Linked DNA regions of Homo sapiens: regions 1, 3 and 4 are each linked to region 2. Evidence: fine-mapped expression QTL. A gene starts in region 2. Each other region holds a variant in brackets. All regions are shown on one strand. Distances are between the middles of the regions. Region 1 overlaps NUCKS1 (nuclear casein kinase and cyclin dependent kinase substrate 1). Region 2 holds the start of RAB29 (RAB29, member RAS oncogene family). Region 3 overlaps RASSF5 (Ras association domain family member 5). Region 4 holds the start of LOC124900423 (small nucleolar RNA SNORA72).

The links. PIP is the estimated chance that this variant, and not a neighbour inherited with it, causes the effect.
Region 1: its variant is fine-mapped to the expression of RAB29 in naive CD8 T cells (Schmiedel 2018, PIP 0.95).
Region 3: its variant is fine-mapped to the expression of RAB29 in pancreas (GTEx, PIP 0.96).
Region 4: its variant is fine-mapped to the expression of RAB29 in whole blood (TOPMed, PIP above 0.99).

The regions. Positions count from the first base shown.
Region 1 is chr1:205,708,311-205,716,400 of GRCh38, forward strand. NUCKS1 (nuclear casein kinase and cyclin dependent kinase substrate 1) reads right to left here. Exons shown (of 7, transcript NM_022731.5): 7 at 4,512-8,090. Among named protein-coding and RNA genes, the nearest start is that of SLC45A3, 32 kb to the left of the region's middle. The variant C/CA (reference allele first, on the strand shown) is at 4,210.
Region 2 is chr1:205,770,716-205,778,822 of GRCh38, forward strand. It overlaps RAB29 (RAB29, member RAS oncogene family), which reads right to left and starts at 4,767. Exons shown (of 6, transcript NM_003929.3): 1 at 4,558-4,767; 2 at 4,118-4,371; 3 at 1,781-1,852; 4 at 757-938; 5 at 18-139. The coding sequence starts at 4,241. RefSeq lists an enhancer at 3,632-3,681.
Region 3 is chr1:206,513,147-206,521,253 of GRCh38, forward strand. All of the region lies in intron 1 of RASSF5 (Ras association domain family member 5), which reads left to right. Among named protein-coding and RNA genes, the nearest start is that of RASSF5, 9.7 kb to the left of the region's middle. The variant G/A (reference allele first, on the strand shown) is at 3,665.
Region 4 is chr1:205,728,516-205,736,622 of GRCh38, forward strand. It overlaps NUCKS1 (nuclear casein kinase and cyclin dependent kinase substrate 1), which reads right to left. Exons shown (of 7, transcript NM_022731.5): 2 at 1,057-1,106. LOC124900423 (small nucleolar RNA SNORA72) reads right to left here and starts at 2,837; the gene lies at 2,706-2,837. The variant A/G (reference allele first, on the strand shown) is at 3,105.

The sequences.
Region 1 (8,090 bases), 62 kb before region 2:
GGAGAATCAGTCCCTTATAATCCTCATTATATAAAAAGAAGAAACGAGCATAGAGTGGGAGGTAGGCGGATAAGCTGACTTGCCCAAGATCACCCTGTCGATTGATCTGACTTCATCTGCAACCAGCCACATAGCTTCTCCAAAGCAGGTCGCCAGACAAGGAAAAGTGATTGGGGGTTCAAATAAAACAAATGACTACTCATGCTATAGTTAGCACGATGTGCTGTTCTGAACTCTGCTGTGGAACACCTGTTGCACTTTTTATACTATTCACATACATTACCTGGAATACTCCAGTTTTCAACATTGTCTGCTTCAGTCCCTTAAACCATAGAAGTATCCAGACATGCCAATATCATGAGAACCAAACTATACCTTAAACTGTTTTTCCTGTTGAGGAATATGAAAGAACTCTTCATTGTAGCACAGATCCCAATTTTTGGTGGAATATAGTCACCACAATTTTCATTGTCAATAAATATTGCTGGCTAATTCAGAGGTGACCTGTGGAAGCAACACGTGCTCTAAGAACTCCTGTTTCCACTGTCTGGTATTATTAGTGTGTCCTTACTTAGACTTAGCTCTCCCAGAGAGAGAGCCATCTGCTTCTCTCATTGCACAGTGACTGTGCAATGGTGTTGACTTCTAGAGAAGAGTAGCCCAAGAGCTAAATATTAGAGGTCTTATTGCTTCCCTTAAGTGCATGGCAAGAGAAAGGAAAGCAAGGTGAGAAAAGGACTGACTTGCTTTGCCAATGGCCCAGGACTGGTGATTTTATAAGGTTTAGCACAAAAACCACTCTTTTGAACTAGATACTGTGTATATCCTGTGTACTTCAAGTCACACCAGCATTCCCTACAACAGAGCTTAGGAATGCTATTTATCTTGTACTCAGGCCAACTGTGTGGCTCTCTACCGAACAGCTGGTTCCCCATCCACCTCTAGGACTATCTAGTTGATGTATAAACAATATTTTTGCCTCAAAAACGCTAACCCCATGGAAACTAACTGTTCATCCACACACACACACACACACACACACACGCACACATACACACACGAAGGAAAAGAAAGATGGGGTTAATTAGGTCAGAAGCAGGAGGAAAAGACAAAACAGGGGGAGCTTGGGGTTTGTAACTGAGATGTGGCATGCATTAGATTTGAAGTCAGGTTACTGAAGCCCCAGATTATGTTCCAAGGTCTAAACAGAACGTCCATTGAGTCTTTGATTCCTAAAGACATTTAGTGCCTTATAAAAGAGCTTAGCTATATCATTATTCCTGATTACCTTAGAAGTAAAACGATATTTTTAAAGTGTTTAGTATTTGTATTCCTCTAGGCTGAATTAGTGAACCACAAGAGACCCAATTTATAGCCACAAAATGAGGATCCAGTGTGGGTCACTGTCTACACACTTCTTGGTAAACACCAGTGTTTCACAATCTATTTTTCGTTATTTCTTTTTATCTTTTAAGAGACAGGGTCTCATTCTGTCACCCAGGCTGGAGTGCAGTGGTGCGATCATAGCTCACTGCAGCCTTGAACTCCTGGGCTCAGGTGATTCTTCCTCCTAAGCCTCCCCAGTAGCTGGGATTATAGGTGCATGCCACTATACACAGCTAACTTGTTTATTTTGTTTTTGTAGAGACAGGATCTCACTGTTTTCCAGGCTGGTATGAACTCCTGGCCTCAAGCAATCCTCCTGCCTCAGCTTCTGAAAATGTTGAGATTACAGGTGTGAGCCACTGCACCTTATTTTTTGTTAATTATATTACTACACACGTTCAGTTCTTTATGGATGAGACACTTCTTACCAGATAACCAATCAGCTAGGGTTACCAAATTGGTAGTTATCATATCCTAAAATTTAGGCTATCATTTTTCTTGGATCAATGACTTTCTATCTCCTTCAGAGCCTTACTTTACCCATCTACCCTAATCTCTTATAATCAGGAGAGCCCTGACTACATATAGACTGTGTATTTGTGTTTCTTCCCAAGATGGAAAAAGTATAACTATTACACACATTGCTTTGTACATCAGCCAAGGAGGTGGTCTTACACATTCTAATAAAAGGGTTTGTGTATTCAACTTAATAGCTAAAACATTACCAATAATAATATATATGTGTACTCTTCCTTGATCAACCTGTTCCTTAAAGTTAGATTTTTAAACAAATCCCTTCTGGGTGCCAGCTTACTGCTAAATCAAGGCAAACAATTATTTCCAACATTTTGTTATCATAGTTTAAAGTAATTATTTGCTTTATTAGGATGGGAACTCTGGCTGTACCCTCTCACTCCCTGACCCCAGAATTAACACAGCATTTATTTCACAATATTTGTGCAGGGTTTACTATTGAACCAGGGGGCACACCCATGAATAATACTGATTTCTCTTGGTGGTGACCCAGCCAAAGCATGTCAAAATGAGTACCTATCTATTCTAGTAAGATAATGGAGGAAAAGAGAAGCAAGTCATCAAGATAAAGGAACACAAACTACCATATTACCTTGAAAACAAATCTAAGTATTTGTTGTGTGTGAACACATATCAGTGCTGATTGTACAAGAAACAAGGCTTTTGAGCTGGAAGGCAATTTCAAAGACAACACCTGTTTCAAAATAGGGCAAAGAGTTCACAGCTGCATTTTGAAATTTCAGTCTGCACTTCTATTTCGGGATGTTATCCACATAGGCTTAGGAGATATAAAGAGGGAACAACACAAGAAGACAGATGTGCATGAATCAAGAAATTCTATTTCCTATTTAAAATTCAGAAAAGATTGCTGCTACATACATTAGGATGTTAACTGGGTACACTGATCACAGGGCTTCGATAACCCAAGTAAGTGGCAAGGTGTTGATACACTTGCAGAATATCAACTGAGCCTAGCCGACAGTATCTAAAAATGTCCTGAGCCTAGTCTGATAGTATCTAAAAATGAGATGGGGAGAGCAAGCATTCCACTACCTATGGAGGACAAACACTGCCCTCTACTGGCAGACTGTAACTGCTATACAGTCAACATGACGAACATTTTCCTCAACAGTCACTATCATGAGACATAATCAGAAAATAAAAGCTTTTAAATAATTTGAGGCTTTGTGTCTAGGGGTCACCAGGATTTTCAAGCAAACCGAAGTATTCAATGAGAAATCTCCTTACTCATTGAAGTTTCCGACTTTCCCCATTAAATCTTTGATGTAACTCATTGGACTGGTTCAAGTATCACTGTTACTGGGAGATGTGAGAGAACAGCAAAATGCTCAAAAGCTCAATACCAGGAAGAAGGCTTAAGGGACCCATGTATACCAAAGGGAGCTGGCTTTAGAACGAACAACTGTGATAACTTAAAGCACACAGCACTGATTCAAACCCTTGTTGTACTACATACTAGCTACATCAGGTACCACATAAAACCTCATCTTACCTGAACCAGGTTATTCTTTACAATATTGGAAGAACAAACACTTGCCGATCTCACAGTTGTTGGAAAAATTAAATGAGGTAATATGTGTTGCACAACTACAGTGTAGTACTGTATACCGATGTTCATGGATAGGAGTCTAGGTAGCTCCAAGTGTGTTTTAACCTCTCTTCATCTGTTTATCCACTTGTTGGTTTTTGAAATCCTTTAAATCAGACTGCATTTCTTCAGCACTGTCCTGAAACATAAAATTGTCTATGTTATCCATAAAATACTTAAGGATTATGAGGAAAAGTAGATGGTTAATGCTCATCCAAATTCAACTTTAACCTGAGACAACTCATTATATTAAGAAATAAATGTATGTGGGCAGTGTGCCTGCACCTGTAATCTGAGCTACTGGGGGAGCTGAAGCAGGAGGATCCCTTGAGTCCAGGAATTTGAGACCAGCCCAGGCAACATAGCAAGACTCTCATATCTCCGAAAAAGAATAAAATGGCCGGGAGGGGTGGCTCACGCCTATAATCCTAGAACTTTGGGAGGCCGAGGTGGGCAGATCACTTGAGATCAGGAGTTCAAGACCAGCCTGGCCAACATAGTGAAACCCCGTCTGTACTAAAAATACAAAAATTAGCCAGGTGTGGTGGTGTATGCCTGTAATCCCAGCTACTTGGGAGGCTGAGGCAGGAGAATCACTTGAACCCGGGAGGTGGAGTTTGCAGTGAGCTGAGATCATGTCATTGCACTCCAGCCTGGGCGACAAGAGCAAGACTCCATCT[C/CA]AAAAAAAAAAAAAAAAAAAAGAAAGAAAGAAATTTAAAAAGTTAGCTAGTCACTGACGGATAACAGGATGCACAAAGCATTTAATTTCAAAGCCAAATTTGCATTTCAATTATAGTATTTGGCTGACAAGGCAAGTATGTAAACAAGAGGAAAAGTTAAAAAGAAAAAAGCCCTAATAGCTACAATATCAGCCCAGTTCTAAAGAGGGATCTTGTACCACATTGTCCACCTAACAAGTAATCTTTAATTCAAAATTCAGCGTAGTTCTTATGGGTATTTGGAATTGAATGCAAGTGTGTTCTGTGAGTATAAACATTATCTTTTATTATATATGATTGTTAAACTTTGCTTTCCACAACACTTCATAACCTTGGATGTAAACATGAGAAAAAATGCTAATTAAGAATCCTTACGCACCCAGTCCAGTGCTCCCTTAATTAATCAAACTGGTAAGTCTACTGCTTCTTGATTCCATCCTGAGGTATTAACTTTTGAACCAAGACATGTTTATCTTTTACCAACAACAGGGATGGTCACTGTTAAAGTTTCTAAATAATTTATTAGGGAAATAAGTTCCCACAAAGTCAGGCTGAACTGGGAGCTGATTAACAAAGCTGTGTAAGTTAGTGTGTTTGCTTTAAGGTATTACAAGAAGTACACAGAGCACACATCTGGGTTATAAAAGCCCTTTTATAAAGCCATTTTTAAACAAAACAAAAAAAAAGTTTACAAAAGAAAAAAAGATACAGAAAAAGAATAACTTGCTTCATATGTCCCAAAAAGAGAAAAAAATAAAGGGGACAATGCCAACATGCTCAACAATAAAGGCTTCTTTTTCTTATTTTTTTAATACAAAATACAAGCAAAGGATACACATACTTAAAACAGAGCTCAGGAGCAGACACGCAGTCCTGGAAACCCTTCAATAAAAGCAAAGCAGGAGTTTGTTTTTTCTTTGTCTATGCAGATACATACAGAGACTGGGATATGTAAAAATTAAGTATCACAAAAGACCATCACACGATTCTACCAATGCATGTTGCATCTGTAATTCACGAACATGGTCAACAAAATCATGTTCACTTCAACCCCATTTCATTTAAATTAAAGAAAAAAACCTTTTAAATAAAGTGGTTACATTCAAACTTTAACTTCCTTAGTACCATGCTGCAGATTTCAGCACTGTTAAGGTATTGCAAGAATGCCCAACCCTCTGGTGTCTGATCATGTATCTAGCAACATTGCAGTATGAAGAAAAGAGATGCCCCGGTCTCAGCCCATGGACTAGTTAATACAGTGAAGCAGGTTCCTGTCTTTTACCCTTCCTGCTCAGAACATAAAAGATTAAGGACTAAAATCAAGGAAGACTGGGAGTTTTAGAGCTGGCAAAATGAAGTCTAAAAGATAAATCAAGGCAAACAATTACTGAGAACTTGGCTGTTGCTTAACCTGGCAAGTCTAAAAGCCTTTCTTTAACCTTGTAGGAATTAGATGCATAAGGTTTGCTGCAACATGTTCATGGTAAACAAACTAAGTAGAGCTCTTATTTACAAATCTTGTAACAAATACTTCTGGAGGAAAAAGAGAAAAGAATTCACTAAGTTCCAGAAGACAAAGCTTTAATTGCCAGATGTATACAAACACACACTCACACGTACACACCCACACAATACTTCAGGGGTTTTTATACATGTTATTTTAGGGCATAAGCTGAGTACTATACCCCCACACCCCATCAAAAAAGGAACAACAAAAAAATCCCAATTTTACCCTCCCCCAATAATCTAGAAAACCCTCCCTTCACCCCTGATGTACAAAGTGTATGCACAACGGTGGCATTCTACCAGCCACACAAAGCATGCTCAAACAGATGTCACCAGTTCAGTCACTCCATTGGCATGGCAACAGGCAGGTTTACGGGATGTTTCCCAATAGTGGTTATTACACAGTCAGCACCACTGTGAATTTTGTGAATTTGAAAAAAAAAAGTGTAATTTATGGATTCAGGATTCAAAAAGAATCATTTTGTATCGAATTTACCCCAGACAAAGGGAAAACTGGTTGCGACTGAAACTTGGCTATAGATAGCTTGATGTCCCAATATTCAAACAATAAGCCAACTCTCCATTTTCAAGTAAATCCAGCTTCATCCACAGAGAAACAGACAATTTTCTAACCTCAAGAGCAACCAGCTTGTTACATTTTCCCTATCCTATGGCAGGAAATGCGTATTACTTCTGTTCTGTTTAAGCATCTCAGTCTAAATGCCATGAAGACCAGAGCCCAGGTTTCTTCCTTTTCAAATTCTTAAGGTGAAAGTTTTTTCCTTTCAGTGCAGCTACCAATGATGCAGGCAAAGAACTGTTCAAGCCAGCACTCATTCTTCAAAGCTGCAACAGTGGCCACCATGATCTTTTATAAAGCTTTCCCCGTTGCTCCTGATATTTATTTCTGCTTTTGCCTAACGCTCTCAAAGCATCTCGTAAACTGAAGTTTAAAGAAAAGCACGATTCCCATCCCCAACCAGTACTTGAAAATCCACTTATCTGAATGTTCACAGATAAAAAAGCCATTAAAAAAAAGAGTCAAGTTTAGTCTAGCTGACCATATTCACAAGTGTTAAAAACTTTACTGGAGTATAACCTCAAATTTCACTCTTGATTTGTTATCTGTAAGAAAATGCTATTTGAGCCAGTACCAAATTAAGTATTAAAATGAGGATTGAACTGGGGCAAACAGGTTATTGTGAAAACAGTCAATATGTAAGCTCCTTCAAGGGAAATCAACTACTGTTCCTCAAGATTAGAAGATGTCCACACTCTTTGCATTACCTCCCTAAAGGAGGAAACACCCATTAATTTTCCCTTATGGAATCAATATGGAGTGGAAATATGAAATGAGGAGATGTTTTAGAAAGCAGGACAAATCTACCTACCATTACTGGAATTAAAATGTATCCTCTGGGCCCACTCCATTGATTCCGATCTGAGGTGAGGAGGACTAAAAGCAGCAGCAGGTTACAGAAAGACTGAATAAGATGAAAGTATGCTACGTATGTCTAGCTGGGGAAGGGGGGATCTGGAAAAAAAATCTTAAGAACTAGAATGTAGTGTCAGTCAGCATAGCTGCTGAAATCTACGTTGTAGAGGTAAACCTAGCAGAGCTAATACAAACAAGCACCTTCAAAGTTAACGTCCCACTTCCTGAGCACTGCAAAATACGACAGTGAATGCTATTGCCATTTCACCATAGGCACACTAGAGAAAAAGAGGAAGGTTAGTCAAGGATGGTGCCAATGGCCAGTCAGTATCGGCTTACAGCTTGTAATGCGTCCTGACATCACTATCAAGCCTGACTATTGAGCACCTGTATCCAGTTGAGTCACCACCACTGTCCTCCTATTTGCATGCATGATTTGAGGGGAAGACTAGAGTGTTTTAAATCATCAATAAAAAGTGGAGAAAACAAAGGTTATTCAGAGCCTGTCTCACTTGGGGACACAGATCCTTCTGTCCAGTCTATCAGAAATATAGAATACATTTTTCAATCTAATGAATTAATTTTAAAAGGGACCCTAAACAAGAAGCCCAATCAAATGCACACAAGTAATCTAGAAGACATGATTACCTCTAAAATATGTGCATATATCACAGAGATGTTAGTGCAGATTAATATATTAAAGAGACTGTTAAACAACTGAGGCTGAAGTTTTAAAAGAGCCCTCCCCCCAAATCTTCACGAAACATAACCTAAGAAAAGCCCAAATGTTACTAGGAATGTAAGACTTAAAATTATAAACTCCTAAAAAATAGAAGTGCATGGTGGAAACACTGATAGGTCTTTTACTATATGAACACAAACTTCTTTGTTAAAAATGGAT
Region 2 (8,107 bases):
CAGCATGAGCTACTTACCTCATAGCCTCATTAATATTTTTGTTCTCCTTGACTGATGTTTCTGTCCAACCTGTGAAACCGTTCTCTTTACTGAACCGGTCAATCTGGTCCCGGCTCACTGCCCAAGGGGACAGATCACACTAGCAAAGAGAAAAAATAAAAGGCAGTATCATAAACTTCCTGCAACTAAGAAAGAATATGGCTCAGATACTGTGGATTTTAAACATATTTCCACCAATGGATAAGAACACCAGCATCGGAAATCTATAATCAACATTCTTCCCAAAGAAAGTCTCACCCTTGGCTGGGCGCAGTGGCTCACGCCTGTAATCCCAGCACTTTGGGAGGCTGAGGCGGGCAGATCATGAGGTCAGGAGAGCGAGACCATCCTGGCTAACACAATGAAACCCAGTCTCTACTAAAAATACAAAAAAATTAGCTGGGTGTGGTGGTGGGCACCTGTAGTCCCAGCTACTCGGGAGGCTGAGGCAAGAGAATGGCGTGAACCTGGGAGGCAGAGCTGGCAGTGAGCCGAGATCGCGCCACTGCACTCCAGCCTGAGCAACAGAGCGAGACTCCGTCTCAAAAAAAAAAAAAAGAAAGAAAGTCTCACTCACCCTCAACATCCTTTGAAGGAGGTAGAGATGATTTTGCCAACTTAAGAAGGGGAAATGGATGCCCAGAATCAGAGAGCATTTTACTTCCTTTCTAACCACAGATAGAGGCTAGGGACCATTTTCTGAGATTGGCCACATACCTTGTTGGCCAAGAGCAGGCAGGGCACCGGCTCTCCATTGGGTAGTGTGAGCTTGCTGTCTAGGTCCTGTTTCCACCTCTGGCTGTTGCTGAAGGTAGTGGCATTGGTAACGTCAAACATAATAACACAGGCAGAGGCATCCCGATAATACAATCGTGTCATAGAGGTGAAGCGCTCCTGCCCTGGGGAGAAAGGGGAGAGTTCTCAAGGTGACCCAAGAGCCGGCCTCTCCCCATTCCTTGTAGAAGAGGGCAGTAAGCATATGTGTCAGATGGGGCCACTCACTTTCCCCCTCTGACTCTTGGTTTTCTATCCCATAAAGGGATAATGAAGCCCAATTATTTCCAAGGCAGATTCCGCACCCAGATTGCTCCAGTCCAAATCCCTGCTCTGCTGCATACTATTTGACTTCGGGCAAATCAAGCTCTCAGTGCTTCAGATTTCTCATTTGTAAAGTGAAGATAAAAGCAGTCGCTTTTTTTTTTTTTTTTTGAAACAGTTTCCTGCACTCCTGTTGCCCAGGCTGGAGTGCAGTGGTGCCATCTAGGCTCACTGCAACCTCCACCTCCCAGGTTCAAGCAATTCTCCAAAAGCAGTAGCTTTTATGATAGGGTTGATGTGAGGATTAATGAGTCAGTGAATTTAAAATACTTAGAAGAATGCTTGGCACATAGTAAGGATTCACTATTTTTACTGTATCTATTTTCTGGGGATCTTGTTTTTCACCAAGGTCAGCCTTAAACCTAGAAAAAGCACCCTCCCCTGCTGTGGGAGTGTCCACCTATAGTCTGGACAATCCACCACCTTGCCAGCCCCTCCATCCACATAGAGACTGCTCCAGATCTATTCAGGGCAAAACATCTACAAAAGCTCTGCACCTATTCAGCTCATGTGTCCTCAGAGCAGCTCAATCATTCCAGCTTCAGAAAAACAATTTCTGGCTTTGCTGCCCCATTTTTTCCTCAGAGCTTTCTAGTTAAATCAAAATTTCTTCCCTTGTTCCTATCTAGCCCTCCCACTTTACCTGCAATATCCCACAGCTGAAGCCGCACTATCTCGTAGTCAGACCACTGGAGAACCTTCAGAGCAAAATCCACTGAAAATATATGTACATTATACTTTAATAAAATTTCACTGTAAAAAATTAATAGGGATAAACTCAAATCAAATAGGCAGTGAAACCCTATGGACACACAACTCCAATCCCATATGTTTAACTTTAAGCCCTCAATTCACTGAGATGAGTCCACATGCGTGTATTTAGTGTGAGATGGATGATTCATACTCACTCTCCAAAGGGGTTTCCAGCTTTTACTCTACTGTCAAGCTCATTTATTTGCTACTGTTTGTCTCCAAGACTGGGGGTGGGAGTAACTATGAAAACAATTCTCATTCTCAGGTTAAATAGTTTCTGGGAGATTTAGGGGGTTTTCTCAGGGAAGGGGTGATGGGGGAGAAGGGGGAAATGAGACAAGTGTGGTTGCTTTCGTATCTTCCACATTCAATTTCACTGTTGGTTTCTAATCAAATTGTATTATGAAAAGAACACACCCTGGGGAACTCTACATCCACCATAAGGTTGCAGGTATTATCTTGGGCAAGAATGGAATAAATGGAAAAGGTCCCAGAGGAGTCCCAAGAAGAAGACACTGTGTGGATGTTGCTGAAGAGTCCTGCTGGAATCTACCACCAAGTCTGCAGGTGCTGAGACTCCTTAAGGCTGAGTAAGTATTCCATGGGGAAAGCCTTTTGGCTAAGGAGAGAAACAGAGTAATTTCTGAGGTTTGGAAATATTATCTTTCACATCTGTGACAGGAATCAAAGCTAAGGGAAATTTAGACTAAACACTGAAAAAAAAATTAGCCAATTATATTCTTTGCTAAAGGAAAACTACAGCAATTGTTAAAAATTAACTATTAATAGCAGGCCACTTTTAACCCAAATCCGTGAAATAGGGACCCTTATATTATTTAGGAGTGGGAGGGCAGAGCGGTCAGGATAGAGTGTCTGAAACTTTGAACCTTTAATTTTGCCAGACTTAAATTTTTTGTTCCTTTGTTTTTGAGACAGGGTCTCACTCTGTTGCCCAGGCTACAGTGCAGTGAGTGGTGCGAACGGGGCTCACTGAAGCCTCGACCTCCCCAGTTCAAGCAATCCTCTCGTCTCAGTTTCCCGAGTAGCTGGGACCACGGCTACTTTCTTCTTTAATTTTTGTAGAGGTGGGGGTCTTGCCATGTTTCCCATGGCTGGTCTCGAACTCCTGGGCTCAAGCAATCCTCCCGCCTCAGCCTCCTAAAGTGCTGGGATTGCAAGTATGAACCACGGTACTGGGCCCTACTGGGGGTTCTTAAGGAGAATGTTTTAATTGCAATGTAAATGTTTGTTAATTTCTTTTTAAACTTCCATATGAACAGGAGCACACATTTTCAATTTTTCCATTGGTACGAGTTTTCCCCCCTTGAAACAAGTTCTTTTAACAGAGAGAAATAAAATTTTAAGTTACTCTCCCCCATCACCAGCTCTTCCTAGCTAAATACCTTCTAATTAACAATAAGGCATTTCTGCCTCTGAAAAAATAGTTGAGTCCAAAGGCCACACCCGGGAAAGAAATGAATGAACTCGGTGTCCCCTTCCTCCCTACCTTCTCCAGTTTGAGGAAAAAAGTGGTGGGAAGATAGGTCAGAGAAGTGGTATATTTCACATTCTTGGAAGAATTCCTTGGTTACCTTTATTTAAGCAATCAACGGACAAAAACACAGCTCATCAGCCCTCATGGGCATCTGACTGCGTAGCCAAGGGGCTCGTTCGGGGATTTTGTGTCTTCCATCCCACCCACAGCCCCACAACAAAGCTACAGTCCTTCAGACCAGTTCCGCTTCCTGCGTTCTCCCACTGAAGCCAGGTTAAACACCTTGCGGTTCCTCCCTCAACAGAGGGGCAGGACTACAGCCCCAGCCGGCACCTAACCAGGAGGCCCCACAGAGGATCTCAGCTGCTTCTGCTGATTGGAGAGATTTGCCGGACAGCTGAAAGGCTGGAGACTTAAGTTCACAGTACGCCTGCAATAAACAGCAATTGCTCATCCTCATCCTCCCTTCCCTATTTCTCATCTTCACGCCTTTGCTCTTACCTTTCTCCTGGCAGTGGGCTCAGTTTGGGAAAATCTAACGGGAAACTCAAGAGAGGCGTGTAAACCAAACACCCGGCAATTACACCATCTAGGTTCCCAGACAGTACTTCCTGACCCGAAGAAGGACCCAACAACCGACAGCAAATCCCCACCCCACTTGGGTCCCCAGCTCGAGTCCGCGGTCGGGGCCTCCTCCTCCCCCTCCCCCTCCCCACCCCCGAGACGTCTCACCTCCCACCGTGGACTTGTAGTGTTTGCTGAAGCTGTCCTGGGAATATCGCTGCACCAGCGACGTCTTGCCCACTGCGGCGTCCCCCACCACCAGCACTTTGAACAGGTGGTCGCGGCTGCCCATGGCTAGCGGGGTGTGCGTTTTAGGGAGGCGGGAAGTGTGGTCGGGGATCGGGGGTCGCTCGTTTTAACCCCTTTGGATCCGGACCCTCTTCAAACTGAAGTGAGGCATTCCCACCCACCGCCTGTCTGGGCTGCTCTGACGAGAAAGCAAAAAAGGAAACTTTGCACTCAACCTATACGCGCTTCCTCCCCGGGCGGCCGCAACCTGGGTGGGGCGCAGGGCGCGAGCTCCGAGCCCCCGGCTGTTCGCACCTTCCCCACCCCCTCCTGGCCTGACTGCCGAGAAACTGGACCAGGCGCCGCGGAACCTCACCCACCGGGACTTCCCCCGAGCGGCTCCAAGTCAGTGACTGAATCCCAGTCAGCTCCTTACACCACTGGGGCCAGATGATGGGGACCCTCCCCTTGCAGCACAAACCAAATTGTGAGGAAGGAGCAGCCGGCACCTCGATTCCCTAGACGCCCTCCCGCGCGCCTCTCTCTCCCCTTCCTCCGCAAGCGTCACGTGCAGGGTTGCCTGTGGCACTACATTTCCCAGCTTTCCTCGCGGTAAAGAGAACCAGCCGAGTGCGGAGGCTCACCGCGAAGCCTCCTGGGAAATGTAGTATATTCGTTATTTTGTTTTAAGCAAACCTACACCAAGTTTCAAGGCTTCAAACTCCCTCGACAGTTTGGAATCTTATTTTGAAACAATTCTAGGTCAGTAAAGATCCCTTAAGGGGAGATTTGTGCAACGTGATCTCACTGGCCTGAATCCATCCCCAGATAGTTTTCTCCTGTCTTTAAAGGTTTAACTGAGTTAAGATTGAAACTTATTTCATTAGTAAAAGCCCAAGCCTCATCCATCATGCTCCAAGTGAAGTCCATTTCCTATTCCTTCAAGTAGATAGACAAGCCCAGGACTTTGTGAAATGACTCATATTTTCTGTGTGAACTTGCCCAATACCAGGCAAGTTCAGGAAAACTTGACCCAAGAGACCAGTCTTTGGAAAAAAACCTATGCCAAAAATTACAGCATTTAATATCCAGCAATAACAATAAAGATGGACAGAAAACAAGAGACAGTTCTCCATTCATACTTCTACAATGCCTATTCTAGCCATACTACTCATGTATCACTTGAGCTAGAAGCTAATTGAAATACACTGGGACTCCTTCTTGATTTGTTGTGGCTGTTGTTAATAGATAATCATAAAACTAGTGTTTGGCAAATAATTTTAATTTCTCAGCCTGTAACTTTACTGACCTACCTGTCACTTGGGTAGAAGTTGGCAGGACATGAGCTCAATGGCAAGCAAAGAGAGCTCCATTTTCTATACTTTTCTAGGAATAGAGGAAGAGAACCAGCGGGGCCATGGGAAAACAGCCCAGGACCAGACACTAGGAAATCTAGGTCTCTTGATAGAGAGGCTATCACTTATGTTTTGTGGCGAAAGAACATCAGCATGGTTCACAATATATTTTGCCCAGAATGTTCGTTACCCAGGTACAGGAGGTTAGTTCAAGCTACTCATCTTTAAGGATCCAGTTTTCTCTGTTCTTATTCGTTTTGACATAGTTGACCACTCCTTGACATTTGTTTCCCTTATGCCTTCTATGACGCTGTTCTTTCTTTGTCATCCCCGTACTTCTCTGATGATTATCTTTTTCTTTCAGGTTTCTCTCCATCCCATTTCCCGCTAAGTATTTCCTAAGGCCTGATTCTTGGTCTCTGAGTCAATCATTCGATAAACTCTTTAGTGAATTGTCCTTGGTGTCAAAGATCTATCTTCACTTTATTTGTTCTTTATCTCTGATCAGTGATATTCTGTCAAGACCAGCTCTGTTGGGGAGACCCTAACCCAGTGGCGCTAGAGGAATTAAAGACACACACACAGAAATATAGAGGTGTGAAGTGGGAAATCAGGGGTCTGATTTCCTTTAGAGCTTTTAGAGCTGAGAGCCCCGAACAGAGATTTACCCACGTATTTATTAACAGCAAACCAGTCATTAGCATTGTTTCTATAGATATTAAATTAACTAAAAGTATCCCTTATGGGAAACGAAGGGATGGGCCGAATTAAAGGAATAGGTTGGGCTAGTTAACTGCAGCAGGAGCATGTCCTTAAGGCACAGATCACTCATGCTATTGTTTGTGGCTTAAGAATGCCTTTAAGCGGTTTTCCACCCTGGGCGGGCCAGGTGTTCCTTGCCCTCGTTCCTGTAAACTTACAACCTTCCAGCGTGGACGTTAGGGCCATTATGAACATGTTACAGTGCTGCAGAGATTTTGTTTATGGCCAGTTTTGGGGCCAGTTTATGGCCAGATTTTGGGGGGCCTGCTCTCAACATGTCCCTCTTCTCTGATTTGCAAATTGATAAATGCAAAGGCAGCTTTGTCACGGTGAGCTACTTCTCGCAGGAGTCAGGATACACATCTGCAGACTATACAAAGACAAACAACACAGATTAAAAGCACAATCATCATTGAAATCACAGAGCTTCCAAGTGTTTTTATCCATTTTCGGCTCCTTTAAGCACTCCAGTTCCTGGCATTAAGGTCAAGTGTGCCTCGGATGCTTTAAATATTTCTTCTTTTAATTTTAAATCCTTATGTTAAGCTCCTAGAGCGGGCCATATCATTTGAGGTTGAGGTGTCACTATACTGCCATGGTTCCAGATAATAGGAACTCTTGCTGTACTTCTTATTATATCTACCATCTGACCATTTTGTTCAGACCAGCTGAACATAGTGTGGCCGTGGCACGCAGACTGAGAGGTGCAATTCAAGCTAAACATCCCCTTAGGGGACCAATTAATAATGATTCCATAGGAATCATTGTGCAGCATCTCTGCCTGTTCTGCAATGCAATCTTCCTAAACAAGTACGTTCATTTTTTCTAACTGGGTCCAATCCTGTTTACAAATAAGTTTTTGAGGGCGGTATGCCTCAATTATAGGAGCAGATTTATTATGGTAAATACTGAGATCAGAAAGCATGTGTAACTGCGTCATAAAGTGATTGCATCCAGGCATTATTGCCAGCCAAGATTGATAAATATACCCAATAAGTATAATTGTTCTCTGTGTCAGCCCTTAATGAAGGAATACTCACGGCACTGGTGATAACCGCTATCATAGCTACCATTAACACTTTATTTGTTCTTTATCTCTGATCAGTGATATTCAGCTGCCCAAAAGGTGCCCCCACTTGGATGTCCTGCCACATCCTTCCTCTTACTACATTGCCATAAAAATAGCTCCTTTTCTCAGCTTCCCTATTTCTGTCACTGGTCTCATCATTTCTTGCCTCCATGTAGACTTCAGATTCTGAGCATTATTATTTCCTTTACACATGTCCCTTTATACCTATTTATTTGTTTGTTTGTTTATTGAGATGGAGTCTCACTCTGTTGTCCAGGCTGGAGTGCATTGGCATGATCTTGGCTCAGTGCATCCTCTGCTTCCTGGGCTCAAGTAACTCTTGTGCCTCAGCCTCCTGCGTAGCTGGGACTACAGGCGCATACCACCAAGCCTGGCTAATTTTTGTATTTTTTTTGTAGAGACAGGGTTTTACCATGTTGGCCAGGCTGGTCTTGAACTCCTGACCTCAAGTGATCTACCCGCCTCAGCCTCCCAAAGTGCTGGGATTACAGGCGTGAGCCGCCGCACCTGGTCTATACCCTTTTAAAAAAAATTCAGTTACCATGTCTGATTGATTGTTTCTTCAGTAAATGGTTTCTCCCACTCATCCTCTCTGCTTCATATTCAGTAATACTTTCCTTTTTTTTTTTTCTCCAACTTTTATTTTAGGTTCAAGGGGTACATGTGCAGGTTTGTTACACGAGTAAACTGCATGTTGCGCGAGTTTGGCTTACAGATAATTTT
Region 3 (8,107 bases), 740 kb after region 2:
GGATGGCCATGGGTGGGTCCCAGCTCCTGCACCCCAGTGTTCTCCCACAGGGTTCTCTCTGGCTCCCACACCCACCCCTCATTCCTCAGTTTCCCCATGGAGGGCAGCTGCTGGCATTCTTGCTCTGCCCAGGCTTACTATGAAGGCTGCTGAGGAACCTGTAAACACATCTCTGGCCTCACCAGAGGCCCTTCCTGTTCGCATTCCTCAGATGGCAAGGTGAGTATTCTTGGGTGGGTGAGTATTTGTGGGTGTGCAAAGCATGCAAGCTCCCCACCCCCAGCCCTTCTGAGGGAACCATGTTCCTGGGGCTCAGTCAGCACCAGCTGGTATGATTTCCTTCTCACAAGCTTGCAGACCTGGGTCTGTGCTGGTGGCAGGATGCTTTCTGCCTCCCTGCAGGGTCTCGCTCTGTCTCTGCTGACTCTGGGCACCTGCCCCTCCCGCAGGGCTCTGTTCTGACTCTCCATGGCTGGGTGGGGAAGGGCTGGCGGCAGCTGGGAAGGCCGGGCCTGACTGGGGAGATGGTTTTGCATTTAGTCATTTTCAGTTTTTTTCCAAGACTTTTGGCAAGCCTTTCTCCACATGTTCCGGGCTGGATCTCAGGGTCGGAAGGGGAACAGAGCCAGTTTTGGGGCTTAGGGGAAACAGCGAGGAGGCTGAGGTGATGACGTTAGACCAGGCAGAAGGCTGGGTTCCCTGGGGGCACTGGTTTAAGTGGAATAAAGTCGGGGCTTGGGAGCAGTCATGGGTTGCCCCACCCCAAGGTCAAGACTATCTTGACTCACACCTGGGGAAGTGACTTTTGAGTTTTTTCTGAAGCACTCATAACTATGCTGAGGAGACTTGGGCAGAGCCTGGTAGACCCCAAGAACTCTCCATGGTGTGGTCTTTGGCTGAAGTGGCCCACAAGGCCATGCCGGGCCTGTTCTAGCATGCCTGTGGTTCCTAGAGTACACAAAGGTTTGTGAGAGATGTACCCATTGGGAAATCTTTGAGGTTTGATTCTCTTTTTTTACCCTTTTTGGAGAGGAAGGAGGAAGGGCAGTGGGGTCCCTCCTGGCATCATAGCATGTGTCCAGCCTCCCAGGGGAGAATGCCCCACTTTGGCTGAGGAGTCTGGTGACCCCTGGGAATTGTAGCAGGTTCTAGATTTTCTTTCGGATTTTCCTACCTATAACTACTGCCCTGGCCCCATTTGAGGGCATGGGGCAGAGGGATCGGGGGGAATGCAAGATGTGCATGCTGAGGGTCTATAAGAGGGGTGGTGTTGGAAAGAGTAGTCTGTTCATTTTTGTGTGGCACTGAGCAGGTGAGTGGATGGCTGAGTATGACACTTACCTGTGACAGGTTTATTCTTCAGTGGAGGGCCTATGTGCCACCTTCTGCTCCCCATTCCTGTTTTTTGAACAAACATATTTCCAGGGTGGGGCAGGTCTTATTTAGACATCTGCAATGGCCATTGGCTGGGGCTGCTAGAAAATTAAAACTTGGCTTACATAGACCTTTAAGAAATCAGACTCCAGGTTCATGAAAGTCAGGCCAAAAAGAAGAGTGATGTTCTTATTTTTTTAAAATCCTTTTATGTTTTGTTTCTACTGGATGCTAGAGCTGGAAAAGAATTATCATTGTGTTTGCTGAAGATACAAGCTGGCATTCTGTGAACCTGCTAGGATGAGTATATTCACATGGAATAGGAAGAGTTGAGAATGGCAAAGAAACTGTGGGAGCAGAAATAACTTTTGTTGCACTTGGCTATCACTAAGGCCGTTTGATGTGCACTGCCTCTGTCAGGATTGCAATTCTGTTTCGTCGGTAGAACTGATGTAATCAGGGCCATCTCATAGATGAGGAAACACAGCATTCAGGGAAGTCAAATGACTTCGCTAAGATAACCCAGATCATTAATAGCAAAGCCAGCACCAGAACCCAGCATGGCATTTTGCCTTAGGCTAATATCATTGATCACGCAAGTTAGTTGAGTTTACTTATCCATCTGCTGCCCTTCTGCTGGTGAATGCTGAAATGTCCAAAAAAGGAGGTACAGGAAAAAAAGGGAGGTGAGCCCTATACAAGCTAGAGAATCAGCCAGGGCTGGGTAATTGAGAGTTGGCTCCACTTAAGCCAATTTTCAACAATCAGTTTCTAAATTGATTGTCACCATGTGCAAATCATGAGATCTTTAGAAAAAGGGTGAAGTTTTTCCAAATCCTAAGATGAAAGAAATAAGTGTGTCTCTCCCCGCTCCCACCTCACCCCGTAGGTGTTCAGGGTGTGTAGGGGGTGGGCCTGGAAATGCAGGTGGAGGATCTTTTTCTGTTCCAGTCCTCCTTCTTGCCATGGCCCAGCTCTCAGAGTTCATGACACAGCACTAGTCAGGAACCAAAGTGAAATTAACAGACTGGATCCTAGAGGGGACAGCTAGGGTGAAGAAGACATGGATAGGGACTGGACAATAATCTGAAGCTGCCTAATGGACCTCTGGCTCTAATCTCAGGCAGTGATGTGGCCCCATGAGAAAAAATACATCTGGGGAAACCTCCCACCCCCAAGCCAGCTCTGACTCTCTATATTTCTCCAGGTTCATCTCTTATTTGGGAACAGGTACCATTGCTTACTTTTCTTGCTGATTTGCAGGAGGCTGTTTTTTCTATCCAAGTTGAATGGAAGTTGGAGACTTGGTGGTCTCTGCTGAAAGAATTATGTGGATTATTTTTTGCATCTGAAGAAAGTATTAACCTCCCCCACCTCAAACAAAACCTCAGAGATGCCTTATTATTCAACTGGAACAGATTCCAGCTGTAACATGAGAGTTTTGAGAGAAAGCGTTGAGCATATTGTCCATGAATGTCTACCCTAGTGATGAGTGTTTTTTAAAAGCCATCTGGAGGTACCTTTATATAAAATAGGGTGATAATATATTGTACCCCAGCAAGTAAGATGGTGAAGGTTGTTGCTTCAAATTATGCTGGGCCATGGCTGAACTTGCCTCCAGCATGGAGGTCATTGAGTCATTGCTTAGATGTCAGAGACAGCAAGAGGTCATTGCAGGCATTTCCCTGTCTCTAGGTAGTGCTCCTCCCAGACCATCATTACAGTAGAAAAATCTATCTAGTTTTCCAAAGGTCAGGAATGAAGATCCTAGAGCTTCTGAAAGCCCCATCTCCAGACTCTGCCAGTTCTTTCCTGTTGTCTTTCCCAATGGCTTAACCTGTCAAAGAACAGCTCAGTGATGAGGAGAAAAGAGAAGTGAGGTCAGCATATTCTGCAGCCCAAACGGTGCATTCGGAAGGGATTTCCCCGCATTACACGTGACTTTTTTTTTTTTGAGATGGAGTCTCGTTCTGTCGCCCAGACTGGAGTGCAGTGGTGCAATCTCGGCTGACCGCAACCTCTGCCTCCTGGGTTCAAGTGATTCTCCTGCCTCAGCCTCTTGAGTAGCTGGGACTACAGGTGCGTGCCACCACACCCGGATAATTTTTTTGTATTTTTAGTAGAGATGGGGATTCACCGTGTTAGCCAGGATGGTCTCAATCTCCTGACCTTGTGATCCGCCTGCCTCGGCCTCCCAAAGCGCTGGGATTACGGGCATCAGCCACCACGCCTGGCCGTGACTCATATTTTAAAGTTCCCCCAGCAGCCCTGTGTTCTCTTCTTTGAGGGC[G/A]GGGATGGGAATGAGCCCTTGCCTGTGCTCAGCCAGGCAGGACTTCCTAGGCCCTCTTGGAGATCTTGGGTGCAAGGACCAGCAGGGCAAGGAACTTGGCCCCCACCCCTTGTTTGATGGTCCCAAGTGTCATTTCAGGACCCGGACTTGCTTATGCCCTTCTTCTGGTACAGAGGTTGCTTGGTAAACTAGAGAGGGCCACAACAAAGGCCATGGGCAGCTCCCTTCTCCCTGAGGAAGCATTAGGGAGAAAGAATCAGTCCGCAACTGAGGAAGGGTGGCATCTGAGCACAGACGTATAAGTGCATCTTCCACCAGAGATTCTGCAAGTGTGTGAGTCCTCTGAGGTGGATTTCCTCTGGTTAAGGGATAGGTGTCCCTGCTGGGCATGGAGGCTTCACCCCTGTAATCCCAGCACTTTGGGAGACTGAGGCAGGATGATCTCTTGAGCCCAGGAGTTCGAGACCAGCCTGGGGAACATGGTGAGACCCCCACCTCTACAAAAAATATAAAAATTAGCTGGGTGTGGTGGTGCCCACCTGTAGTCCCAGCTACATGCTGGGGGGTGGGAGAATCACTTGAGCCCAGGAGGTCGAGGCTGCAGTGAGCTATGATTGGACCATTGCACTCCAACCTGGATGACAGAGCAAGATCCTGTCTCAAAAAAAAAGAAAAAAGAACAAGTGTCCCTCCTTCATGTTAAGCTGGTCCCCGCTGGTGGTTGGCAGGTGAGTCCTGTCATCTCTGGGCAGCCTGGGAGGGACACCCCTCTCTAGTGGCTTTTCTGGAAGGCTCTGCTGCCTGTCTGGTGCCAGTCTTCTGTCTTGGACTGGGCAACAGGGCCTCCCAGAACTTTTCTACTAGGGCTTGGCAGCTTCTGGGAGTCAGAGTGAGAGAACACCTGTGAGTACTGTTTTGGGGCAAGAGAACAATATTTCTGCCCTTTTGTGACAGACTGATCTTTTCTCACCACCCCACACCCATAGGGTCACATCCGCTTCTGCTCAGGTATCTAGTCTCAGAAAAATGAATGGCCTGACCCTCTTAAAGCAACACCACCTCCTTATGGGCCCCTCCCCCACCCTGGGCTTAGCATGGGAGGATGTGAATTAGCCCCAGTTTGTCCCTTAGGAGCCTGTACAGCTGGTGAAGCATTAGTAATCCACCATCCCCAAAGAAATCCATTAACGAGCTCCTGGGCTGGGCACGTGGTGTGAGGTAACCGATCACTTCTGTCGTCTGAAACTTTGGAGACATTGATTTTCAGACTCACAGGCGCGACTGAGAAGTGAGGCTCGGGGCAGGCTCTTCCCTGCAGCCTGTTTGGTGGGGGCATTTTTATCTTATCAAGCTAAAAGCCCCAGGAATAGAAAGTTTTCCACTGGGGGAGGTGGAGGGGAAAGGACCTCAGTGCGGAGACAGAAGGCATCGTCAGTCGTTGAGGGTACCAGAGCCTGAGGGTCCAGGTGACTGTCCAGGTCATGCGAGGCCCAGGGCCCTCCCCGGAGCCCTCCCCCACCCGGCACTCCACCCCTGACGCCAAGCCTGGAGAAAAGCTATTGATCTCTGGCGCTGAGATGACCGAGGGCCAGGAGGAGAAGGCAACCGCTGCCTGCTTTGGGACAGTCACTGCTCAGCTCCAGCGGCTCTTCTGCAGGCTCCCGAAGAGCCGCTCGGTCTCCAAAAAGCACCAGATCCTGCAGAGGTTCCGCAACGGGGCCCGGAGGGCTCGGGGTAGGTCTAAGCCAATCTGACTGGGGGAGCTTGGGTTCTGAGGCCTCTGCTACTGGCTTCTCCCATAGAAAAGGAGTACAGGATCTTTCTGGCAGTCTGCTGTTTAGTGCTGAGCTCAGCACCACTCCTTGGCCCTCCTGACTCCGCAAGGACAAAGGCACAGGTGCTGTCACCTTGCCTGGTATGGGTTGAACAGCCAGATCCAAAGGACATGGTCTGCCTGTTTTGGAGGCCTTGAGTGGGTAGTGGATTTTAACAACTTTTTATTGGCTGAGAATTAGGGCCAAGCGGTCGTCTTAATCAGGGTCCCTGAGCTGGCAGAATATGGGTATCTCGGATGGCCACTGTTTTCCATTCTGCCTATCCTGTAGCCCTTCAGACCCTGCCAAGTTGCTGAGTCAGCCTTCTGAGGACCTGGGAGCAGTGATGTTTCCCAGGCAAAGGCTTCTCACCTGCAGAGTTAGTGAAGGTGCAGGCTGCATGGGGCTGAAGGCTGCTGGGTGGAGCACAGCTGACAGGAGTCCCGGCCTCGGGAAGTGGCCAGACCACTGATTCCTCTCCTGAGCACTAATTAGGGCAAGAACAGTCCTCGCCTGAAGAAGGATAACTGGACGGCATAGCGGTGAGTGAAAGATAAGAGGCAGAGACAACAGCAATCCAAATCATCATAGGATCTTAGGTCATCCCATGCCCCTTTTCCAATGAAAGGAAGCTGGGACCAACAAAAGGCCCTGCTGGTGGCAGTGCCAGGACTATGAACCCTGGGCACCTGCCTTCCAGCCTTGGATTCCTTCCGCTGTCTCATGCTGTCCACAGCATCTTACACTTCTGTAGCACTCTCTGCTAAACACTCAGAGCATTTACGTTTGTTTGCTTTTAATATCATTTATTCCCTCCAGATCCTGGTGTGGTGGGAATGGGAAGGGGATTATTCTGTTTCACAGATGAGATAGCTCAGACAAGTAAGGCCCCTTGTTAAAGGTCATTGCCATCTGGCTGGGTCTGGAACCTGCTTCTCTTTAACGGTTGGCACTCTTTGGAGCATACATACTTTTCTTGGGGCCCCCTGTCCCCATTTTTCTCTATACTTCTCTCATATACTTTCAAGAATCAGTGGGGATCTAGGCAGGTCACCACACTAAGTCATAGGGATGGGACTAAAATGAAGTGCCATCTCTGGACTAAGTTTTGGAAGCAGATTTTTAAAAATAGGATCTTGACTATGAAAAATACGATTTTTCTGATTAAGGCTTTACCTCTTGAGAAGTGGGAATTTTAATTCAACTAGCCCTAATCCCCATTTGGAGACAAATATTTCTTAGCCAGCCTGAATAATTTATCCTCATCAATATCCTAATACATACTGTGACCTTCACTGAGAAGAGAATTGGACACCGAGTTGCTCAATTTAAATGCTCACGAGCAAGTTGGTATTCATCCTCTCTTTCCCCCTCCCTTACTCTCTCTTTAAGAATTATTCAGCAGATCATTTCCTCGCTCCTTTGCTATTCAGTCCAAGGAGTTATAGATTTAAGTAAAATCAATCAGGCCTGAAGGGGCAGCATTAAGGTCAGGGCACATACCGCACTGTGGCTATGATGGGCTTGCTTAACTTGTGTTAGCATTTGGGCTTAATTGCCAAAAGAGGAGGGGAGAAGACAGGATGCTCAAGATGATGGGAAAGGTGGACTGCAGACTGTGGACATCTGGAATATCCTCATCTCACTCACAAGACTCCATGAGCAGCCTGGAGTGTGGCATTTAAGAAAATGGGTTTGGTGGCCGGGCGCGGTGGCTCACGCCTGTAATCCCAGCACTTTGGGAGGCCAAGGCAGGCAGATCACCTGAGGTCAGGAGTTCGAGACAAGCCTGGCTAACATGGCGAAACCCCGTCTCTACTAAAAATAGAAAAATTAGCTGGGCAAGGAGATGGGCACCTGTAATCCCAGCTACTCGGGAGGCTGAGGCCGGAGAATTGCTTGAATCCGGGAGGCGGAGGTTGCAGTAAGCCAAAATCGCGCCACTGCACTCCAGCCCAGTTGACAAAGCAAGACTCCATCTCAAAAAAAAAAAAAAAAGAGAAAAGAAAACAGGCTTGGAGCCAGGCTGCCTTGAGTCAGGATCCTGGAGTTACCACTTTCTGGCTGTGGCTCCTCCTACAGATTAACCTCTCTGAGCCTCATTTTTCCAAGTATAGGATAGGGCAGAATATCTCAACCTCAGACTGGTGTGGGGTAAATTAAATGTCAAACAGTTGAAACCATGTTTGGTGCATAGAAAGCCCTGCACTGGGAGCTGCTGTTGCTGAGTGCTCCCAGGAAGACTTTTCATAACTGCTCCCCGTGGGTCATTGGGACAAGCCTGCAGCACGGCTGTCTGCCCCTCCATTGTACCTGGACCAGGGTGGACTGCCTGCATCTCAGTGGGAGACATAGGACTTGAAGGTTGCCCAGGTAAAAGTAGAGGAGAGACATAAACTCACAAACACATTCCCTGGAAAAATTCCTATCATTGAGTTTACCACATCACATAATTAACAGGCAGAGCTAGATTAGCCCACCGGGTATCTTTAGGAGCTAAGCAAGCATGTCGCCAAGGAGCAAGTCATATGTCATTTTAAAAGGCTGCTAGGGGGGTCTGTGGGAAATAGGCCTAGGTCTCTCCAGAAGTCTCTGGTGGTCCTGGCTGCAGCGATGCAGCTGTAAAGAA
Region 4 (8,107 bases), 42 kb before region 2:
ATTATTCTAAGTAAATATTAAATACAAACATTTGAAACAATTCCTGACATGTAGCAAGCATTTAATAAATATTAGTGCTACATATTATTTTTTTTCTCTTCTTCATATCTTTCAGTATTTTCTAAGTCTTCCCAAAGGGCACATATTATCTTTATAAAGAAAAGTTAGAATAAAAAGAAAGAAAAAAGAATAGTAAACATACCTGGAAAGTAATGAGATTAAGGAGACAACTCTGAAAAAACCTCTTATGGCTAAGACTTAGCTATACAACACTCATTCCTTGATGAATTAGTTCATAAATATAAGTTGTTTCACAAAACAGACTCTCATCTTAGTTGCTTTATTATGTAAAAACATAATACAAGGCACAAGTTTTATTGTAGTAACAGCAGGAGATTTTTTTTCCCCTGCAAAGTGCTGGGATTCATAGGCGTGAGCCACTGCGCCTGGCTGTAGTGGATTTTTTTTTTTGAGACAGGGTCTCTTTCTGTTGCCCAGGCTGGAGTGCAGTGGCGCCATCTCGGCTCACTGCAACCTCCGCCTCCCGAGTTCAAGCGATTCTCTTGCCTCAGCCTCCAGAGTAGCTGGGATTACAGGTGCATGCCAACACTCCCGGCTAATTTTTGTATTTTTAGCAGAGATGGGGTTTCACCATGTTGGCCAGGATGGTCTGGAACTCTTGACCTCAAGTGGTCCGCCCACCTTGGCCTCCCAAAGTGCTGGGATTACAGGCATGAGCCATGGCGACTGGCTGACAGCAGGAGATATTTTAAGCAATGAACACTGTATCAGAATTACTGGACATTTAAACTTTGGACTCCAAAACCAGGTAAGAAAAAAGCTTTTTAATGTTTATTATCAATGATTTACCAAGGAAAAGTTAAAATCCATGTAAGTTCAACTTTTGCTTTGGTTGACACAGATCATGACATGGTTTTGGTAAATGATCTAAAAATAAAAAAGTAAAACTTATTCCAAAAGCATAATAAAACTATATAAGCTGGTAACCTCCACTGGTCAGTCCAACTTAAAATTTGTTGAAACCACAAAACTTACCTGCATCATCAGATTCCTGAAACTGTGAGTAATCAACAACCTTCCTATTTCTGTAGAAAGAAGAGACTCTAATTAAAATCATAAAACTGTAGGATTTTTCTAAGACATCAGAACACACATTTCTCTTTCATAAACAGAACTGAACTAGCACTTTGAAAATTATTTAATTGCTGGACGTGGTGGCTCACACCTGTAATCCCAGCACTTTGGGAGGCCAAGGCTGGTGGATCATCTGAGGTTGGGAGTTTGAGATCAGCCTAACCAACATAGAGAAACCTTGTCTCTACTAAAAACACAAAATTAGCCAAGCGTGGTGGTGCATGCCTGTAATCCCTGCTACTTGGGAAGCTGAGGTAGGAGAATCACTTGAACCCAGGGGTCAGAGGTTGTGGTGAGCCGAGATACCTCCATTGCACTCCAGCCTGGGCAACAAAAGTGAAACTCCATCTCAAAAAAAAAAAAGAAAAGAAAAAAAAAGAAAATTATTTAATTAATTTTTTGAGACAGGGTGTCACTCTGTCGCCTAGGCTGGAGAGCAGTGACACAATCATGGCTCACTGCAACCTTGACCTACTGGGCCCAAGTAATCCGCCTGCCTCAGCCTCCTGAGTAGCTGGGACTACAGACGCATGCTGGCTAATTTTTTTTCATTTTTTGTAGAGACAGGGTCTCCTGGTGTTGCCCAGGCTGGTCTCAAACTCCTGAGCTCAGGTAGTCATCCTGCCTCAGCCTCCCGAAGTGCTGGGATTACAGGCACGAGCCACTGCACCCAGCCAAAAATTATTTTTTAAAGGCCCCCACTTAAGCCTAAGTACTTAACATTCTGTTATAAGAAAGCATAGCATAAACCACAAGTATGTCAAGCTACAATTCTCATACTGCTCATCTCAGTGATAATTCAAATACCATTCTTTTCTCTCTCTTTTTTTTTTTTTGAGATGAAGTCTTGCCCTGTCGCCCAGGCTAGAGTGCAATGGCGAGATCTTGGCTCACTGCAACCTCTGCCTCCCAAGTTCAAGCGATTCTCCTGCTTCAGCCTCCCGAGTAGCTGAGATTACAGGCGTGTGCCACCACGCCTGGCTAATATTTGTATCTTTAGTAGAGACGGGGTTTCACCATGTTGGCCAGGCTGGTCTCCCCTGATCTCGTGATCCGCCCGTCTTGGCCTCCCAAAGTGCTGGGATTACAGGCGTGAGCCACCGTGCCCGGTCTCAAATACCATTCTTTTCTACAAAACAATCTCCCGTCTCTCAAAACAAATATACATAAAACAGCAAAATGAGCCAAATCACCATGTACCTATGTATTCATTATATACAAAGATGCCCTATTTATAAGCTAAAGTTGTAAATGATATTTTACTCTTACTGCTACACACATATATATGTATACTTGATAAACAAGGTTATTACTAAGCTTTTCAAGGCAAAAGCAATTTTTAGGTATAGTACAGTTACATTATAATGCACAAAAATTATGGTAATGTTAAGCTTTATACAGAAGGGGAAGGAAACAAATTAATTGGTCCAGTCAAAAGATGCTTTATTTAAAAAACTATGAAAGCCTCACAGATTTATGTACATCTATGTATTTGACTCTATTCTTTTGTTTCTAAACTTTTTTTTTCCTTTTCCAATTTTACAGACCTGGTTTATCAGCAACATTTATAAAACTAGACCTCAGGAAAGAACTAGTTCTGGGGATATATGCATGGTCTTAATAAAGTGAATGGTTAGCCTGTCCTGACTATTACAAAATCAAAACAGTGAGAATATCTGCAGAATCTATTTGACTCTAAATGACTTTAAGTACTCCCTATCAAGTAACGTATCTTTAACATCTCAAACAAATCTTCATTTCTATTTTTGTACTCTGCACTCTAAATCTAAAAGTTTAATACTTCTTCTCTAGAGATATACATGTAAGCTTCCATGTTAGTACCCAAACAGCCTACCTGGCAAAAGAGCCTTAGATTAAAAAATGCACTGTTACTGTAGGCCTAAATTGATCAAGTGAACTTAAAAAATTAAGAGAAATAGGCCAGGCGC[A/G]GTGGCTCACGCCTATAATTTCACCACTTTGGGAGGCCGAGGCGGGCAGATCACGAGGTCAGGAGATTGAGACCATCCTGGCCAACGTGGTGAAACCCCGTCTCCACTAAAAATACTAAAAAATTAGCTGGGTGTGGTGGCGGGCGCCTGTAGTCCCAGCTACTCGGGAGGCTGAGGCAGGAGAATGGCTTGAACCCGGGAGGCAGAGCTCGCAGTGAGTGAGCCAACATCACGCCACTGCACTCCAGCCTGGGCGAAAGAGAGAGACTCCGTCTCAAAAAAAAAAAAAAAATTTAAGATAAATATACATTACCACCTATACTTAAACCTGAGCAGAGGGATATTCTTGGCTGTATAGATTAAGACACCATTTAAATTCAAAGACAGGATGGTCAGACTGCAAACACTGGTCCACCTTCTAGTATAGTATGTGGAGATGGTATGGATGGAGGTGAATTCTGGAAAAAAAGGCTTGGGCTTATATGTAGAGGAATATATAGTTACATACTCAGCATTAGAAAGAGAAAAAACAAGGCTCTTAAGGAGTTCCACCTTCTGTTTTTCTTTAGTTTAACAAAACTATAAAATATACTCCAACTATATATTTTATTGTAAGAAGCTGAGTTTATATTACCAAAGATACTATATTATTAGGAAAGCTAACTTTAAATATGACTATTAATTCCATGTACATGAGGGACCTAGAGTAGATGAATTCAGAGAGACAGAAAGTAGAGTGGTGGTTGCCAGAGGCTGGAAGAGTGGGGATGAGGAGCTGTTGTTTAGTGGGTTTAGTTTCAGTTTTGCAAGATTAAGAGTTCTTTACAACAATGTCAAGTACTTAACAATACTGAACTATACACTTAAAAATGGTTAACATGGGCCGGGCACAGTGGCTCATGCCTGTAATCCCAGCACTTTGGGAGGCCAAGGTGGGCGGATCATGAGGTCAAAAGATCGAGACCATCCTGGCCAACATGGTGAAAACCCGTCTCTAGTAAAAGTACAAAAATTAGCTGGGCGTGGTGGTGCGTGCCTGTAGTGCCAGCTACTTGGGAGACTGATGCAGGAGAATTGCTTGAACCTGGGAGACAGAGGTTGCAGTGAGCAGGGATCGCACCACTGCACTCCAGCCTGGCAACAGAGCAAGACTCTGTCTCAAAAAAAAAAAAAAAAGTTAAGATGGTAAATTTTATGCTAAGCATATTTTATTACAATAAAAATATATTTTCTTTCTTAAAAATATGACTATGAAAAAATCTAATATTTTTGGGCTACTATGGAAATGCCTGCCATGTTCTGGCAAAACAGTGATTTTTTAATGACAAATGCCATGAAAAATAGTATGATGATCATAATGCAAACACGACCATTTTCTGTATTATTTAGGATAAAAAAAATGGGTCATAGAACCAGGGGAAGAAAGGTATCTAGAAGAGGAACTCTTACATCTTATCCTCTAATAATTAAAATACAGGTTCCGAACTTGTAGGTATAATTCTAGCTTATCCCATGCTTGTGGGGTGGCAACTAACATATTATTACCCCATTTCTGGGTACGACGTAGCAATGGATATATCCTATGAAACTACATAAGGATGGACAACCAGAATGGTAAACGGTATATCATATGAAGAACAAATGAATAAATTGAGAATATTTAACTTGTAAAATGGGAAAACATGTTAGCTACTTTAGGGCTTTGATGTGAAAGGAGTAGTAGAGGTACAGCTTAGCTTTAGCAATCACATTAAGTGTAGGTTCAACATAAAGAGCTTTAACTGTCTGCTAACAATGGCTACTTCCTTACTCTATCACTAGAAACACTCAAGAAAGGAATTAGTATGGACTCTTTGTACTAGGAATCCTGGGTTCTGGTTCTAGAATGTCAAGAAAATCATGTAATTTCTCTGGGCCTTAGTTCTTCCTCTGTTGGAACTGATAACCTAAATTGCTTGACAGATCTAAAAGATATTCTATAAAATTAAATGTTTAAATAATAAATTAAATAATAAATAAAATATTTAATAAATAACATAAATGGCAGGCATTATATTAAAATATAATATAGAAAATGGTCACTGCAAATGATCATATTGCATTATGATCACAATACTGTTTTTCATGGCATTTGTCATTAAAAATTAACTGCCCTCCACAACAGAAGAAAACTTAATCTCCTCCTCCTTCCCTGTATATCTATCTGTATCTATCTAGACAGACCTACCTACCTATCTTCCATCTGTCCGTCCACCCATCCATCCATCCAACAATTGAGACAGGGTCTTGTTCTGTCATCCAGGCTGGAGTGCAGTGGCAGTCATAGCTCACTGCAGTCTCCAACTCCTGAGCTCAAGTGATCCTCCCACCTTAGCTTGTGGAACTACAGAAAGGCACACAGCCACCATGCCTGGCTAATTAAAAACAATTTTTTTTTTTTGTAGAGACGGGGCCTTTCTATGTTTCCCATGCTGGTCTCAAACTCCTGGCCTCAAGCAATCCTCTCACCTTAATCTCCCAAAATGCTGGGATTACAGGTGTGAGCCACCAGGCCTGGCCTGTAACTTGTTACTTTAAACCTAAGACACTAAAAAGGATACTTTTTATTTAGTACATATTTTTCTATCCTACTTTTCAACAAACAGAACTACAGAAATGCCATGTAGACTATATTGGCATTATATAAACAATTAAATTTTAAAATTAAATTGAAAGACTATCCCTTCCGTTGAAATATGAAGTATTTTAACTTTCAATGATCTGAAAACAGCCAGAATGATCTCATATGCCATTTATCACAAATACCATAAAATCAGTGTAAAGCAAAATATGAATATAGAAGCAATTCTGCCTTATTAAGGGCAACCAGTCAGAAACAAATATAGTCATCCATAAATGCTAAAGAGGGAAAAGATAAAATAAATAAATAAAAGATCTGTGATAACAAGGGCCATTCATGATGACTCATAATGACTCATAATAATTTGGTTCAGGCCGGGCTTGGTGGCTCACGCCTGTAATCCCAGCACTTTGGGAGGCCAAGGTGGGTGGATCACCTGAAGTCAGGAGTTCAAGACCAGCCTGGCCAACATGGTGAAACCCCATCTCCACTAAAAATACAAAAAATTAGCCAGGCGTGGTGGCGGTCACCTGTAATCCCAGCTACTCGGGAGGCTGAGGCACAAGAATCGCTTGAACCCGGAAGGTGGAGGTTACAGTGGGCCAAGATTGTGCCACTGCACTCCAGCCTGGGTGATAGAGCAAGACTCCATCTCAAAAAAAAAATAAAAAAGTTTATTTCCCAAACAATGTCCTGCCTCCTAAAGATGCTTATTCAAAATAATATAAATAACATACTATTTCCACCACTTAAAGGCTTGCTTTGTCTGGGGTTGAAATACATTTTTGATGAATTTGTTCCTAATGAGATGATAGGACAGAAATCCAGCATTTAAGAATTTCATTTAAGTCCCAGGGCATGAGAGGTTCTATTTCTAGGTGAAAACAAAGAAACATTCTAATTTCTTCAAAATACAATCATGTGCTGCATGACATTATGGTGAACTGCATACATGACAATGGTCTCACAAGATTATTATAGCATATTTTTACTGTACTTTTTCTATGTTTAGATATATAAATACCTACCATTGTGTTACAATTGCTTACAGTATTCAGTACAGTAACATGCTATACATGTTTGTAGTCTAGGAGCAATAGGCTATACCATACAGCCTAGGTGTGCAGGAGACTACACCATCTGGTTTTGTGGAAATACATGCAAATCACCTAAAAATGCAGTTCTCAGAATGTATCCCTGGTGCTATGTGACACATGATAGTTAAATGCCAAAGCTAAACTAACTCTTCAATGTAAAATGAGTATCAATAACTAGAACTGGAGGACAGCATAAAATTTCAATATAGCAGAGAGGTTAAAAACACAGATTCTTGAATTTACGTCCTGACTCTTACTAGTTGTATATCCTCAAGCAAGTTACTTCCCCTGACTGAACTTCAGTCTCATCATCTGTAAAACAGGAATAACAATACCTGTTACAGGAATAACAAGAGTGTTGAGAACATTTCAGAACATTTGTGCAAGGTATATAAATATCAATAACAGCTATTATTACTTATAAGTATTAACTTGTTCCACCCAGAATACCACTGTAATTTTGAACACATAACTAACTCTTATTTGGATATGATGATTAAGTCACTTTGTTGAAAAATATGTAAGTCTTAAAAGTATTGGTTCTAGTATCATTCAGAAAGATTGTCTTTGTTTTCTTGTTCATCTCACTAAAATGTAATACCAAAATATCTCTTTTTTTTTTTTGGAGACAGGGTCTGCTCTGTCATCCAGGTTGGAGTGCATGAAGTGCAGTGGTGTGACCATAGCTCACTATAGCCTCAAACTCCTGGACTCAAGCAATTCTCCCAACTCAGCCTCCTGGGGAGTTGAGATTACAGGTGTGTGTCACAACAGCCAGTAAATTAAAAATTTTTTTTTGTAGAGACCAAGTCTTGCTGTTTCCCAGGCTGGTTTTGAACTCCTGGCCTCAAGTGATCCTCCCTTCTCGGCCTCTCAAAGTGCTAGGATTACAAGCATGAGCCACCACATCCAGCCCTCCCTATTTTTATTTCTGACTTTATGGCAAAGTTCAGGTTACCATTTAGATCAAAAATTTTTAAATCATTTTTTAAGTTTAAAGCATTCATAAAACCTATCAAAGTCTGATGGTCGTGGGGGTGGGAGATATGGTGGTGCTGAGAGTATTATATGTAGTAGAGCTACTGGACCCTAGACAATCTAATTCAACCTTTAGCTTGTATCCTGTTAACAAATATCCCTAGAAGAGAATGACTGAGAACTTCTCATGATCTCCAAGGCAGCCTATGCTAAGAAAATTCCAGTAATTGCCAGGTGTGGTGGCTCACCCCTGTAATCCCAGCACTTTGAGAGGCCGAGGCAGTGGATCACCTGAGGTCAGGAGTTCA